Linked DNA regions of Homo sapiens. The protein of the gene in region 3 purifies or fractionates together with the protein of the main gene of each other region. This does not show direct contact. Each region holds a gene or a part of one and is shown on either strand. Other genes may lie near its edges.

The links.
Region 1: the proteins of NME2 (region 3) and TAGLN2 fractionate together in Homo sapiens (co-fractionation; one large-scale study listed by BioGRID). This does not show direct contact.
Region 2: the proteins of NME2 (region 3) and DSTN fractionate together in Homo sapiens (co-fractionation; 2 studies listed by BioGRID). This does not show direct contact.

Annotation. Positions count from the first base shown.
Region 1 is NC_000001.11:159,917,497-159,920,173, forward strand, and holds the end of TAGLN2 (transgelin-2), read right to left. Parts: intron 2,340-2,677; coding exon 2,165-2,339; intron 1,881-2,164; coding exon 1,778-1,880; intron 1,446-1,777; coding exon 1,304-1,445; 3' UTR 615-1,303; downstream 1-614.
Region 2 is NC_000020.11:17,594,058-17,597,785, forward strand, and holds part of DSTN (destrin), read left to right. Parts: intron 1-3,728. UniProt on the Homo sapiens protein: Actin-depolymerizing protein. Severs actin filaments (F-actin) and binds to actin monomers (G-actin). Acts in a pH-independent manner.
Region 3 is NC_000017.11:51,164,911-51,168,510, forward strand, and holds the start of NME2 (nucleoside diphosphate kinase B), read left to right. Parts: upstream 1-1,500; 5' UTR 1,501-1,587; intron 1,588-1,590; exon of another isoform or gene 1,591-1,653; intron 1,654-1,811; exon of another isoform or gene 1,812-1,916; coding exon of another isoform or gene 1,917-1,920; coding exon 1,921-2,046; intron 2,047-3,331; coding exon 3,332-3,433; intron 3,434-3,600. Other genes in the region: NME1-NME2 protein, read left to right, coding at 1,917-2,046, 3,332-3,433. UniProt on the Homo sapiens protein: Major role in the synthesis of nucleoside triphosphates other than ATP. The ATP gamma phosphate is transferred to the NDP beta phosphate via a ping-pong mechanism, using a phosphorylated active-site intermediate.

The DNA.
Region 1 (2,677 bases), on a different chromosome or scaffold from region 3:
CATGGCCCAAGGCCACACCCTAGAAAGGAAGTTTTAGTCTCTCCCAGGCACTTAGTTCACAGGTGCTTAGGATCAATCAACACGGCTTCTTCCCTCCAGCGACCACCACCAACTCACTCCTGCTCATTCCCCAGCTCTCCACGTTTCCTCACCACTGCAACCCCCACCCTCACCACTCCAACACAGACCACCTCACCCCAAGCCCGCCTGAGGGACCTCTCACCTGGAGACAGCTTCACTTGCCAGGACTGATGGCTGTGCCAGCAGCCAGCCCCACCCTCTCAGTGACTGAGAAGCTGTTCCAACTGTAGAGGCAGACCCAGCCAAAGGCAGCAGGCAGGATTAGCCAATTCCATTGACTAGAAAGGGCCTTACTTCCCTGTGGACACTGCCTACATAGTCTGCATTCAGCTGTGAGGTCCTGTCCCCTCTCAATTCCAACCTACACCACCCCCCAAAGCAAGTGAGAATGAGGATGGGGAGGAAACTCAAGACAGGGGTTAGCACTGCAACCTCTCATCTCTGCCCTCCTTCCTGTATCACTCACTGCACTTTGCCCAGTATTCCTCCCTTCCCCACAGTGGCACAGTGGCCCCAGACACAGCCAGAGTCCATTCAAAAATGACAAATTCTTTATTTAAATCAACAAACTCATCTTCCTCAAGCCCCAGACCATGGTAGGCAGCCCTCCCTCTCCATCCCCTCACCCCACCCCTTAGCCACAGTGAAGGGAATGGAAAATGAGAAGCCACGAGGGCCCCTGCCAGGGAAGGCTGCCCCAGATGTGTGGTGAGCACAGTCAGTGCAGCTGTGGCTGGGGCAGCAGCTGCCACAGGCTCCTCCCTATAAATTAAGTTCCTGCAGCCACAGCTGTGGGAGAAGCATACTTGTAGAAGCAAGGCCAGTCCAGCATCAGAAGGCAGAGGCAGCATCAGTGACTCCCAGCCATGGAATGAACGGAGGACACAGAGCTCAGAGACAGAACAGGCCAGGGGGAAGAAGGAGAGACAGAATAGGCCAGGGCATGGCGGTGAGGGACTGAGGCCCCTAAATTTTGGTCCCAGGGGAAAGGAAGAGGCCAGTTGGTCCAGTTTTGATGGCTATGGGGAAGGGAATGTATTAGTAAGCATGGGGGAGAGGATGCCAGCAGGCACCTCAGAGGTGACAGGACAGGCTGAACCCCCCACCCTGACAGAAAGGAGCTTGAGAGCTCTGGGGCTCTCTGGGAATGTCACTGCTAAAATATATATCTACATATATATTAACCATTCGTGGGAGGGCAGGGGCAAGGCCTGGGGTGGGATCAGAGGATCTGGCGTGGCATCCCGTAGCCAGTCATGCCTGCCTGAGACGCCCCGCGGTTGGTGCCCATCTGTAACCCGATCACGTTCTTGCCCTCTTGCAGCTGGTTATCCGAGAAGTTCCGAGGATTCTCCTTGGATTTCCTGGGTGACAAGGGAGTGGTGGTTAGAGGAGATCACAGGCTGCCCTAGTAAATCCCTTCCTTGGACAGAGCACAGGCTTTGCTGTTGGCTCAAGGGCTGGTGCCAGCTCTGCCCTCGAGAGCCATAAGCTCTCTGAAGCCACCTCCTCATCTGTCCAAAGGGACAGTCATTTGCCATCCCAGAGGGTGTTGTGAGGATTAAGTGAGATGAGGAATTTTCTGAAAGTGCTTTGTAAAGGGCCAGCTGCTACTGAGATAAGTTATTTCCTAGGGACAGGATTGGGCAGAAACAATGCACCTGCTGGACCCTGCGGCTGTCCCAGCAATACTTACTTAGGGAACCAGTTGGGATCCCCAGAGAAGAGCCCATCATCTCGGGCTACTGCCAGCCCACCCAGATTCATCAGCGTCCGCTGCACACAGGCCATGTTCTTTCCTGGGAAGGAGAATGGGAATGTGTCAGCCTCCGCAGTGTCCTAGATACCAGGGTTCCGCCTCTATCGCTAAGTCAGCAGGCCTGGCTTCCTAATTATTTCTACTGTTCATTTCCATACCCTTCTCCATTCCAGCCTCCAATATGACCAAGTGCTCCATGGAACACAAACACACCCCTCTTTCTCTGCAGGGAGCCAGAAAACAGCCCCTTCTGCCTGGTCAAGAGGGCCCAGCCCAATCTCTGGCCTCCTGGATGACAGGACCCAGCCCCTCGCCCTGTCCCACCTTCCCAGAGGTCCACAGTTTGGAAGATGTCAGTGGTGTTAATGCCATAGCGCTCAGCTGCTTGCAGGAACTGAGAGATCTGCTCCATCTGCTTGAAGGCCATGGTGGAGGCCTGGATCTTCTTTACTGGGGCCTGCCCCTCGGGGTACAGTGCATTAATGAGCTCACATAGCACCTGGATGAGGACAGCAGGGGTGGAAAGGTGAGAATATGCCTACCTATCGCAGCTCAGCGTGCACCACCCTCAGAACCAGAGACAATGAACCAGAGAGGCTCCTGTCTTGCCTGAAGACAGCTTGGACTCTTTCACTAGAGTAAGCCTCACAGTCCTTCTTGCCAGCCTCCTTCCTCCGAGCCCAGAGTGAAAAGCCAGTGTTTAGTCTTTCCTTGCTAATATACCCTCCCACAGTTCTTTCCTTAGAGACATTCTTCCTCAGTGTCACCTCAGTCTTCCACTGCCTGGGAGGCACATTCACCCTTACCCTCCACTCCACGGGAAGGGAGGAAAGCATG
Region 2 (3,728 bases), on a different chromosome or scaffold from region 3:
GTGACGAAGTGACACCGTATCTCAAAAATAAATAAATAAATAAATAAATAAATAAATAAATAGCTATTTTTTACCTTCAGATCAATGGAAAGCCACTGGACTGTTCTAAGTATGGTGATCAGATTCATGTTTATGTAGAGGATGAATTGGAGGGTAAAGGTGATGGGCAGTTGGTATGGGCAGTCTTGTTGTATTAGAACTGCAATAACAAATTAAATTCAAAATCTCAGTGACTTAACACAGTAAAGATTTGTCTCTGTCACGCAGAGTCCAGAAGGGTTGGGCAGCCTTCTCCTATCATGAAGTATGCTTACCAAGGTCATCTTGGTGGGAGAAAACAGAGCTTTAAGATCACTTTTATTTAACTTTTATTTAATTTTTGATGTTTTAAAAATCATTTTATTGTGGTAGGATTCACATCTAAAAAGCTGTATTTAGTGTATTTAAAGATCACTTTTAAAGGGCCAGGACTGGAAGTAGTTTACATAACTGGGCCCAGCTTGGCTGTTCAGAACTCAAATGGCTGTTCAGAACTCAGTCATACAGCCAACTCAGCTTGCCAGGAAGGCTGGGGAATGCAGTCTTTCCTGTTCAGCCAAGAAGAGAAAACAGTATGATGTATACATATCCTAATCTCCCTCCTCTGCAGCCACTTGAGGAGTTACTGCAGTCCAAGTAAGAGGCAATGGAAGCTTGGACTGAGGGTGAAATGAGATGAATGTATCAGAGAAAGATGAAAATCCAAAGAGTAAGATAATGGAGGAGTTGCTAAGAACATCTCTTAGGCTTGGAGCCTTATGTGACTAGGAGGGTGGTGATAGCTACTGAGAAAGGAAGACTGGTTAGAAATGGACCAGCTTGTTTTTTATTTTAGACATGTTGTGCATCACATGCCTTTGAGACACACAACTGGAGATGTGAGATAGGAAGTTGAATGTAAAGACTAGAAGCTCAGAAGAGCAGAAGTCTGAACTAAGTTTTGGCTTAGATGATTGAAAGCTTGAGCTTGGGTAAACTCTCTGAGGAAGAATGCAGAGTTCGTCCTTTCCTTCCACACTGCCATCAGCCTCTGCTTTCCACTGCATTGTCCTACCACCCTCACCCCTTGACCTCAGCTGACCTTTTGGAGGTCCCCAGAGCCCTTTTTCTTGTCCTTAGGTAGTTCCTTTTGGAACTCCCCGTCATAGCTGTTCTGAATTGTTAGTAGTAGTAGATTGGAGGAGTGCCCTCAAACCCATCCTACTCCTCCTGCCTTATACTTCACAGAGAAAATAGAATCTTTCAGACACAATTTTTGGCAGTGTATCTTCCTTCCACCTCAAAACTGTCATTTTCCCTTCCTCCCTGTTTCAGAGAAAAAAATGTGTATCTTTTTCTTAGGCTAACTCTCCCATCTGTGCTGTGGATCTTACCCATTTCTTTAGATCTCTGATATTGTTAATTTTATGAGTGATTAAGATTATCTCCTCTGGAATTGCTTGAACCCAGGAGGCAGAGGTTGCAGTGAGCCGAGATGGTGCCATTGCACTCCAGCCTGGATGACAAGAGCGAACGTCCATCTGGAAAAAAAAAAAAAATCTCCTCTGGAGCCAAATTGCCAGAGTTCAAATCCCAATTCCTCTATTGTTTACTCTGTGACCCTGGGCAAATTATTTAATTTTGCTATGCATCTTTAAGATGCAAATAGTGATAGTAGCTGTCTCATAGAATTGTTGTGATTTAGAAGTGTCTAGCAATAGTAAGTACTCAGTGTATGTTTTAATTTTTTTTTAATGTTTTGGCTCTTCCTCTTTATTCCTTCAAGTTCTTAAATATCTAGAACAGTTACATCTCCCCAATCATAAGACAACTTGCATGAAGTACCATTCAATCTTCCCTTTTTTCTTCATTGTTAACCATCTTATGTTTTCTGTCTTTACCTCTTCAATTCCCCATGGGTCCCCAGTCCATTATGGTTGACTTCTGTCCCATTTCTCCCATCTGTTGAAATGTTCAGAGGCCCAATTGCCAAGCCCAGCGATCTGTTTTCATTCTCTGAAATACTGCAGAATTGGCTGTTGATGACTTTCCTCCTCAAAATATTCTCCCTTGCTTCTAAGATGCTGCTTTCTTCCTTCTTTTTCTTCTTAGTTTTCTGATTACCTCTTTTTAGTGTCCTTGATGGGTTTCTCTTTTTAATTTTTACGTACTCAGTGGTGAGAAACTAGATTGGTTTTTCTTTTGCTGCTTAATGTTGGTGACCCCATGGTGTGGGCTAGTCCAAAATATGGATTAGGTGAAGCCTTCCAACGAGATCCGTGCTCATATTTCTGCCACTGTCTGGTCATCTCCACCTAGATGTCTTGCACAGTCTTCAGAGTGGATGTGTCGTACTGTGCCATATTTCCTTTTCTGTTCATATATTGCAGTCTAGTCACTAATCGAGAGAATCCTGGGGCTTCTCTGATACCACTCTTTTGTGTCTCATTCAGCTATATTGGTTTGACTTTGACATGTCCTTGAATTTTTCTGTTTTTAACCTCACTGCTGTAGTTCAGAGCTTTCTTCTCTGAATATTTGTAATTGTGTCAAAATTGGTTTTCTGCTTCCAGTTTCTGTGCCAGTTTCTCCTTCAAGTATTCAGTGTTAATTTCCTCAAGCACAAGTGTCTAATGGTATAAGAAACCTCCACAGACATCACTTCTGATAGAAAAAAAGACAAAATTCTTCCTTACTGAGGCTTTTAAGGAGCTTGTAAGTTACAGCCAGATTTGGCTGAGATTTATCTGTTTTATAATTGCAGAATGCACATTTACTTTGTTTTTGATTACTAGTACATCATTGATTTAATTTACAAATCAGAATTTAGAATGTTTGAGATGCTTAGATATTGATTGATGTATTTAAAGATTGGTTGATTGAATATAAGGCTTTAGATGTTGCCTTCCTGCTTTTAGAAATTGCTTGTTGGGTCAAATGTGACTTCAACATTATGGACTAGGGAGTTAGAGGGATTGGGATCTGTTTCTAGTTCTTCAATTTTTGTTGCTTTGAACATTTTATTCATCTGTTGCAAAATGGAGATTCTTAACTTGCTTAACATAAGATACGTTGTAAAGATCAGAAATATGCTACTCCTAAAGCAGTAAAAGGTTTAAGAAAAGTGCTTTTTAAAATTAGGAATGTGGTAATATTGTGTACTTATGAGTTTTCTAGTCCTAATTTTCTGTTTCTGCCACTTTATTAGAGTGAATGTTCATTTATGAACAGAAAATGTGGAGTAGATGGCATTGGAGTGTGTTATTTAGAGATCTTTAATGAATGAGATGATGAAATAGCCCAGTTACCTTAATATTAAGTAAATGCTAGGATCTTAGTGTATCTTTCTCCCAGGATTCTTGCATGTGTTTTAAAGTGACAACTTTATTTTTATTTGTTTGTATAAATGTATGGGGGTACAAGTGTAATTTTGCTACATGCATGGATGGTAGCAGTGAAGCCAGATCTTTTAGGGTATCCATCACCCGAATAACATACATTCTACCCATTAATTAATTCCTCATCCTCCCCTGGCTCTCCATTGTCTTTTATTTCACACTGTGTCCAGGTGTACACATTATTTAGTTCCTAAGTGCGAACACATGGTATTTGTTGTAATAACTTTATTGAGGTATAATTCACATACCACAAAGTACAGTTCAATTCAGTGGTTTTTCAGTATATTCACAGTTGTGTATGCATCACTCCTG
Region 3 (3,600 bases):
GTGGCCTGTTTGTTTTGGGGCGTGAGATGAGCATACCAGGACTTGGGGGAATGAACATGTGTGTAGTGAAGCTGGAGGGTTACAGCCTCCCCAGTTAAGGACAGTCTTCCCAGGAAGGAAAGAAGAGGTGAAAGCAGAGGGGTGGTCCTGACTGTACCCTGAGTAGCCATCAGTGACCTGACCAAGGGGAGCAGATAGCTCTCCCCTGGACAGAGAAAAGTCCGTGCAATTTCGAGACCTGTTTTCACAGTTGACATTTGGTAATCCAAATGAGAGTGTGTTTCAGATCGAAGCCAAAAAATAACAGTGCCCCCAGATGAGGGCACATGACAGTCATTGTCAATGTGTGGTGGGCTAATGCTCTGTAACTAGAAGTTTGGAAAGCCGATAAGGTATAACAGAGGCCAGATTGTCATCCATCTGGCCAGTGACAGGTGATCAGCGCAGTGCTAGGGGCACTCGGGTGATGGCATGATTGCTGTGGTCAGCTCAGAGTCCTGAGGGGAAGCAAGCGGGCTCTCACCATCTCAGGGCAGTACCACTGCTGTGCGGCTGTCAGTCAGTGCTGCAGGCGCCGAGAGGAGGGGCTTGTGACCGCCCCAGGGAAGCTGGGCATCACCAAAGGGAGCTTGTTTGCCAGGGACACTGCAAGTAGGAAGTGTCTACAGGTCGATGACAGGCCTAATCTCTATGACAGGGTCTAGACTTTCCTCAGGGTCCAGGGGCGCACCTCAGGGTGAACTGGAAAACTCGACCGCACTTTAGTGCCAGGTGGGCAGGGATCCCCATGTCAGGGTGGGAGTGGGGCGGCTGATTGGGGCTGGAAATGTAGGTGGGGAGGCGGCAGCCAGGGAGCAGGGCATCCTGCGAGAAGAGCATCCCGCTAAGGAGTCTGAACGCCATCCTGTAGGCGGGGGAGTCATCAAGGCAGGGCAGAGGCAGGACCAGATGGCCGTTTGAGGTGCTGAGCAAAGCTCCCGGTTTGCGCGGAGAGGTGAGATCGAGGCCCCTTGGGAGGCCGAGGCTTAACCAGGGCTCAAGCAGAGGGGAGGGAAGGCTGGATTTCAGAGGTAGGGAGGATAAGGACCGTGGGTGCACGACGGGGAGGGAGAGCCAAGTCAAGGTTAATGCCGGTGCTCGGGCGGATGGTGAAAGCAGCAGATGGCCTTGACCGGGGTAGAGAACTCGAGCACAGGAGCAGGTTCTGTGTGTGTGTGTGTGTGTGTGTGTGTGTAGGAGCTTTTGGGGTCACGGGAAGTACTGAGAGGTGAGGAGTGGGATTTGGGACGTGCGTAGTTGAACTCATAGGACGTCCAGGTGGAGAAGGAATCACTTCCTGTCTCTGGATCCGTCTCGATCTCTGCCTGGCGAGGGCGCGCCCCGGCTGGGCGTGGACACTGTTCTCCGGCCGCGTCGGGCCGGGCGGGTGGGGCGTTCCTGCGGGTTGGGCGGCTGGGCCCTCCGGGGTGTGGCCACCCCGCGCTCCGCCCTGCGCCCCTCCTCCGCCGCCGGCTCCCGGGTGTGGTGGTCGCACCAGCTCTCTGCTCTCCCAGCGCAGCGCCGCCGCCCGGCCCCTCCAGCTTCCCGGTAAGGCGGTGGGGGCGCATCCCCTGGCGACTCCTCCCGTTCCCTCTTCCGCTTGCGCTGCCGCAGGTGGGCCCGGTCTGTGGGCGCCCCCCGATTTCCCGCAGGTCCCGCGCGGCGTCGGAGCGGGAGATTCCCTTGCAGCTTGCGCCCCGCGGGCCTTCGGGCTCCGCAGAGGGACGCCGGCCCTGCGCGGGGCGGAAGCGGCCGGGAAGCCACGTGTCCCCGCGGCCGCGCGTGGTGGGGGAGGAGGGACCGGCGGCGCCCACGTGGCCTCCGCGGGCCCCGCCAGAGCCTGCGCCCGGGCCCTGACCGCACCTCTCGCCCCGCAGGACCATGGCCAACCTGGAGCGCACCTTCATCGCCATCAAGCCGGACGGCGTGCAGCGCGGCCTGGTGGGCGAGATCATCAAGCGCTTCGAGCAGAAGGGATTCCGCCTCGTGGCCATGAAGTTCCTCCGGGTAACTCGCCCCCGTCTCCCCTTCCCCGCTGCAGCCGGCTCGCGGGTGTTTTTCCCTCCCGGCGGCGGTTTGTCCGCGTCTGCTTTCCGAGTTCATTTCGCTGCCGCGAAATCCCTTTGCCCTCTGCCCCCGCCCACGGCGGCTTGGGCCCGCCGACCCTTTCCCGGGGTGGTGGGGACAGACGCCCTTGGGAAGGTGAAGCGCTGGTAGCGTGACTCGCCCTCCGGGTTTGGGTTCCTTCCCGCGGGCCGCTACCTGCCCACCCGCCGCAGGGGGGCAGCAGGGAGCGGAAAAACCCCGGGCCCCAGACCCCCTGCGCCTGCCCACTCGGGTCCACCTAGGCACAGAATGGAGGCTTGGAATCTCCTTTGCTTTAGTCTGAAACTCCGAGTTCCAGTGCGGTGCTCCTCCTTTAGCATAGGGTAGTGAGTGTATTTTCCACATTAAATTTGGGGCACAGATCTGAATCCCTACACTTACGGGTAAGAATCTAAGTACTGAAATTCAACCAGGCTCATCGGTGAAGAGAATGTTCTCAGTTATTATCTGAAATATTTAAAAGGGCATTGTGAGTAGCCCAGGGGAGTTTAACATGACCTCTGCCAGGCAGATGACCTGACATATGTACTTCAGTTGCAGCCAAAATTTAATTCCCTAAATCTAGATCCTCAAACCACCTACTTTTTAGGCTTACAAAACCCCTAATGTCATTGACGGTATGAGGGTGTCTTTACGATTAGAACAGTCTTGGCCAGGCGCGGGGCTCACGCCTATAATCCCAGCAATTTGGGAGGCCGAGGTGGGTGGAGCCCAGGAGTTGGAGATCAGCCTGAGCCACATAGCAAGCCCCTGTCTCTACAAATAAATAAATAAATAAATAAAAATTAATTGGGCATGGTTGAGTGCATCTGTAGTTCCAGCTACTTGGGAGGCTGAGGTAGGAAAATCACTTGAGCCCTGGAAGTTGAGGCTGCAGTGAGCCATCATTGTGCCACTGCATTCCAGCCTGGGTGATGATAGTGAGACCCTGTCTCCTAAAACAAACCAAAACAACACACCAAAAAAAGAACAGTCTTTCTGTTAAAATGGCATTAGTTTCATGGTTTGGATGGGATTTAAAAAATATTTATGTGTGTGTATATGTGTGTATATATATATATATTTCCACACACCACTTAGGAACGTGGGCTAGAATATAAAACCGGACTTGCTAATGGGAGGTTCAGAGGATGGGTTGGAGTCTTTCCAGCTTAGCTCCTAACTGGTGCCTCCTCTCCAATGCCAGGCCTCTGAAGAACACCTGAAGCAGCACTACATTGACCTGAAAGACCGACCATTCTTCCCTGGGCTGGTGAAGTACATGAACTCAGGGCCGGTTGTGGCCATGGTGAGTGCTCGTGGGGAATGAGAGAAAATGAGGAAAAAGTGCTCAGTGTTCTTTGTTAGACATCTCCCTCAGCTAATCTAAATTTTATTTTATGAATGGAACCTGCTGAAGTTACTTAACTGAGCAACTAGGAGCTTGGGAGGAGAAAGCAAATCAGACCTTAGAAA